2 separate regions of the Homo sapiens genome follow, and region 1 is linked to region 2. Evidence: fine-mapped expression QTL. A gene starts in region 2. The other region holds a variant in brackets. All regions are shown on one strand. Distances are from middle to middle.

What was found. PIP is the estimated chance that this variant, and not a neighbour inherited with it, causes the effect. A credible set is the group of variants that fine-mapping cannot tell apart.
Region 1: its variant is the best candidate, but not a certain one, in a credible set for the expression of HDAC1 in gastroesophageal junction (GTEx, PIP 0.83).

Annotation. Positions count from the first base shown.
Region 1 is chr1:32,723,866-32,726,873 of GRCh38, forward strand. No RefSeq gene overlaps it. Among named protein-coding and RNA genes, the nearest start is that of NHSL3, 16 kb to the right of the region's middle. RefSeq lists enhancers at 426-1,254, 1,363-1,657. The variant C/T (reference allele first, on the strand shown) is at 1,875.
Region 2 is chr1:32,290,914-32,293,413 of GRCh38, forward strand. HDAC1 (histone deacetylase 1) reads left to right here and starts at 1,170. Exons shown (of 14, transcript NM_004964.3): 1 at 1,170-1,305. The coding sequence starts at 1,257. RefSeq lists a silencer at 884-1,293 and enhancers at 1,904-1,963, 2,035-2,500.

The DNA.
Region 1 (3,008 bases), 430 kb after region 2:
TGGCGTGGTGGTGCATGCCTGTAATCCCAGCTGTTTAGGAGGCTGAGGCAGGATAATTGCTTGAACTGGGGAGGCGGAGGTTGTAGTGAGCCGAGATTGTGCCATTGCACTGGGCAACAAGAGCAAAACTCCGTCTCAAAAAAAAAAAAAAAAGGCAAAATTAGCCGGGCATGGTGGTGCACACCTGTAATTCCAGCTACTTGGGAGGCTGAGGCAGGAGAATCGCTTGAACCCGGAACGCAGAGGTTGCAGTGAGCTGAGATCGTGCTCCAGCCTGGGCAACAAGAGCAAAACTCTGTCTCAGGAAAAAAAAAAAAAGCCCAGGTGCGGTGGCTCATGCCTGTAATCCCAGCACTTTGGGAGGCCGAGGTGGATGGATCACGAGGTCAGGAGTTCAAGACCAGCCTGGCCAAGGTGGTGAAATCCCATCTCTATTAAAAACACAAAAATTAGCTGGGCGTGGTGGCAGGCTCCTGTAATCCTAGCTCTCGGGAGGCTGAGGCAGAGAATTGCTTGAACCCAGGAGGCGGAGGTTGTAGTGAGCCAAGATCACGCCACTGCACTCCAGCCTGGGTGACAGAGTGAGACTCCGTCTCAAAAAAAAAAAAAAATTACTATTGGGGCTAGTCTGGCCTAGAGAAGAACAGTGATTTGCACGCTCTCCTGTATGATGTATGTGCAATAACCCATCCTGTGGGGAGTGAAGTGACTTGCCCAATGTCACACTGCATGTTGTATAAAAAACCAGCCTGGGCCCCAAGAAGGCTGCTTTGCAGCCTGGGAAGAGGTGACAGGCCCTGGCATGATCTGCCCTGCCCTCTCAGGACCTGAATGCCCCTCTCCACTCAGGACAATGGGAACGCCTCCTGCCAAAGCCACTGCTATTCCTCTCAGTGGGGAGGAGGGAGAAGACAATGAAAGAGGCTGGGGAATGAGGGGTGTGGGGGACTCCAAACAGAGCCAGCAACAAATGGGCAGGGCACAGAGTGGGGCAGGAAGGATGGCCCTCTCTCCACTGGGACTTTGAGAAGGGGCCATTTTGGCAGGAGGATGGGCGCAGTCTGCCTACTGGTATGCTTGAGCCCCTGGACAACTTCATTCACTGTCTCTTTACATCACTCCCTCCTGTGTGCCCAGAGCATAGGACGGGGACACCAATGCACCAGCGCGCCAAATCTGCGTGACCTCGTGCAAGCCACTTAGTCTCCTCACCTGTGAATTGGAGGTGATCGGCCCTACTTCCCAGGGCTGTTCGGAGCATTAAAGGCAATCACAGAAGTGAAGCACCCCAGCTGGAGTGGGCGAGGCAGTCCAGCAAAGGCTAGTTGTTACAGTGGCAGAGGCGCTCCTCTCCCAGACTGCCCCACACAGCTGGCAATGGTGGGGACTGGCCAGGAGAGCTTGTGGGGAGGAGCCCTCTTCCTTCCTGCCCCTTCCAGCTGGGTATCAAGATCTGAGACCAGATGTGTTGGTGAGTGACTCAGCGCTTTCCTGCCTGGAAACTCCTCCCTGCCTGTCTCACCAGGCTGGGCCAGGGAGGGTGAGACAGCAGACTGGGGGTGGGAGTGGCTGGTTCCGAAAAACCTCAGGGGAGCCATGGGGGCAGGAAGGGAGAGGGAAGGAGGGATGAGAATAGTGTGCCTTGGCCTGCAAGATGGGGATGGGATGAAGGAAGTGGGACACTTCCGAGACTGTCAAGGAAGAGCTAGGTTGAGGGTGTCCTTGTCTGTCTAGTCAACCTAAAATGACCAGGTGGGAGGAGGAAAGCTCACCCCTTCCTCTTCCCACCTGCATACATCCTAGCCCCAGTATTTCCAGGCCAGCCCAAACCCATTTGTCTTGCCCTCCTGGGCTGCATACCCACATGACGCTCC[C/T]TTCCTTCCCTTTCCTCTCCTCCTCTTCCCAGCCAACCACCTCCACTTCCCCATCTCCCACTCCACTGGATCTGTTACTAACTCCTTGGTGCCCACTCTCTCTGGAAGGTTGTCCTCTATTGCCTAATCCCTCACCCTGACAGCTTAAGCTGTCAGGGACAGTAAGCATGGTTGACCTGGTCCTTCTGGACCTTCATGGAGCTTTTGTTTTTGAGACGGAGGCTCTCTCTGTCGCCCAGGTTGGAGTGCAATGGTGTGATCTCGGCTCACTGCAACCTCTGCCTCCCAGGTTCAAGCGATTCTCCTGCTTCAGCCTCCCAAGTAGCTGGGATCACAGGTGCGCACCACTTGGCTAATTTTTAAATTTTTAGTAGAGATGGGGTTTCACCATGTTGTCCAGGCTGGTCTTGAACTCCTGACCTCAGGTGATCTGCCCACCTTGGCCTCCCAAAGTGCTGGGATTACAGACCCGAGCCACCATGCCCAGCATCTTCTTGGAACTCTTTTCTTCATCTCAAATATCACCCTGCTGGTTTCCCTTCTATCTTTTGGACAATTCCTTCTCTAATCTCTTCTTCCCACTCTCCCTTTTAAAGGTAGAGTGTTTTGTTTTGTTTTTTGTTTTTTGAGACGGAGTCTCGCTCTGTCGTCCAGGCTGGAGTGCAGGGGCGCGATCTCGGCTCACTGCAAGCTCCGCCTTCCAGGTTCGCGCCATTCTCCTTCCTCAACCTCCCGAGTAGCTGGGACTGCAGGCGCCCACCACCACGCCCGGCTAATTTTTTGTATTATTAGTAGAGACAGGGTTTCACCGTGTTAGCCAGGATGGTCTCGATCTCCTGATCTCGTGATTTGCCCGCCTCGGTCTCCCAAAGTGCTGGGATTACAGGCGTGAGCCACCAGGCCCGGCCTTTTTTTTTTTCTTTTGAGACAGAGTTGCTCTCGTTGCCCAGGCTGGAGTGCAATTGCATGATCTTGGCTCACTACAACCTCCACCTCCCATGTTCAAGCGATTCTCCTGCCTCAGCCTCCCAAATAGCTGGGATTACAGGCATGCGCCACCACATTCAGCTAATTTTTGTATTTTTAATAGAGAGAGGGTTTCACTATGTTGGCCAGGATGGTCTTGAACTCTTG
Region 2 (2,500 bases):
GGGCGCTGTGGCTCACGCCCGTAATCTCAGCATATTGGGAGGCCGAGGTGGGCGGATCCTGAGGTCAGGAGTTCGAGACCACCTGGACCAACACGGAGAAACCCAGTCTCTACCAAAAATACAAAATTAGCCGGGCATGGTGGCACATGCTTGTAATCCCAGCTACTCGGGAGGCTGAGGCAGGAGAACCGCTTGAACACAGAGGCAGAGATTGTGGTGAGCCGAGATCACACCATTGCACTCCAGCCTGGGCAACTAGAGCGAAACTCTTGTCTCAAAAAAAAAAAAAAAAAAAAAAACAGGGAAAGAAAAGAAAGGAAACCTGCCCTCCTATCATAGGATAATCCCATTTCCTCCTGTCTAAAGAGACGCCTACTTAGTCATCCTGGGTGACTGCATCAGGGAGGTAGATTTTGGAGTCTGAAAGGCTGGGTTCTGTCACTTTGTTACAGTGCCTCTGGTGCAAAGAAAGCATTTTAAAAACCCTGTACAATTAAAAAATTGAATTTAATTACTTTGTGTAACTTTGAATAATTCACAGAAGTCTGAACTTCTTTATCCTGTCCTGTAAAATGGAGGTAAAAAGCCCTTGGCCGAGAGCTGTTTTGAGGAAAAACTGAAATAACATTGGTAAAGTGTCGCACAGTACTTGGCACACAGCAGCCCCTCGACAAACATTAGCTTTCTTTCCCTTTCTTGTCGGTTTCTTCCTCTCCAAACCCGCGTGTTGCTTTTCTTTTTAATTATTTTTCTGTAGCCCTCCTTTGCGGCCACAAACTCGCTTTCTAACCCAGGTTCAGCCCTTTTATTGGCTGAGTGACCTTGTGCAAGTCACTTTTCCCCTGTAGGCCTCGGTTTATTCTCCGTAAAATCAGAAAGTTGGCCTCCGATCTCCAAGCACGCTTTTCACGACGAAGTGGGACTGTTAAGTTTACAGAGCTGCTTTCCTCCCCCGGGACTGATGGTACGGTCCCCGGGCGGCTCCCCACCCATCTGTCGCAGACCTTGGTACAGGCCCAGGGGGCCCTCGGCGGCCTCTCCGGGCTGCCCTTGCCCCCTGCCGAGTTCCGGGCCCGTGTCTGCGCAAGCTGATTGGCTGGAGCGGTGCCCGGGCTGCGCGGCTATAGGTGAGCCCAGGAGGGGACGGGCGGGGCGGGCCGGAGGCCCGCCCCCTCCCCCCTGGGTCGGACGCTGAGCGGAGCCGCGGGCGGGAGGGCGGACGGACCGACTGACGGTAGGGACGGGAGGCGAGCAAGATGGCGCAGACGCAGGGCACCCGGAGGAAAGTCTGTTACTACTACGACGGTGAGCACCGTCCTCGCGGCGGGGGCGGGGCCAGGCCGGGCCGGACCGGGAACCTGGAGGCTGAGGCTGGAGCGCCGATGGGAGGCTGCGGGAGGCTGAGGCGCTGGGGAGAGGCTCGGAGAGGAGGCTGCGAGGGGGAAGTCGAGGCTGAGGGAGGAGGCTGCGAGGAAGGGAGATCGAGGCTGAGACCAAGAGGGGATCGCGTGGGGGAAGCGTGAGGTAATCTTGATGGGAAGATTCTGAGGAAGTCTGATGTGGAGAGTTTGAGTGGGACTCCTAGAGGGGAGGGTGCGTCGGAGCGGGGAGGCTGAATCTGATGGAGACGGCTGCAAGGATACATTTTCTTGCCGAGAACCCAAAGCTCTTCCCTGCCCCGTCCCTTCCTCATCTTTTCTGGGGGAAGAGTCCTGCACGACTGGTTGCCCGCCTCCCCTCCCCCAGCCTCTGAGCGGGGCCTGCGGTTGCTACTGCGACGTGGGGCGCCAGGGGTTGCAAGGAGAAGGATGCAACCTGTTAAAACAGACTTCTCACTTAATCTCTCAAGCAGGTTACTGTGTTCGAGGAAGTGTTGAGGGGCTGGGGCCGTGGGGTTGATCGGGTCACCCTTCCCAGTGACCGAAGTTCTCTCCGTGTCAGAGCTCAGAGTGTTAGGGGAGCACAGAGAAGAGGCACCGAACTCCACCTGAGGAGTCAGCGAAGGAGGGGACATCTTAGTTAGGACCTGAAGAACAGGAGTTCTTAGCCAGGCACAGGGAAGGCAAAGATAACAGCAAGTTTCAGAGGCAAGAGAGAGGACAGGACCTTTGAAAAACAGGCATTTGGCCGGGCGTGGTGGCTCACGCCTGTAATCCCAGCACTTTGGGAGGCCGAGGCTGGTGGATCACCTGAGGTCAGGAGTTCGAGACCAGCCTGGCCAACATGGTGAAACCCCGTCTCTACTAAAAATACAAAATTAGCCGCGCATGGTGGTGTGCGCCTGTAATCCCAGCTACTCTGGAGCCTAAGGCAGGAGAATCCCTTAGAACCCGGGAGGCAGAGGTTGCAGTGAGCTGAGATCGTGCCACTGCACTCCAGCTTGGACAACAGAGCGAGGCTCTGTCTTAAAAAAAAAAAAAAAAAAAGATGTAAATAGGGACCGGACCATGAAGGGCTGGGCATGCTGTCCCAAGGAAGTTGGACTTTATTGAGGGCACTT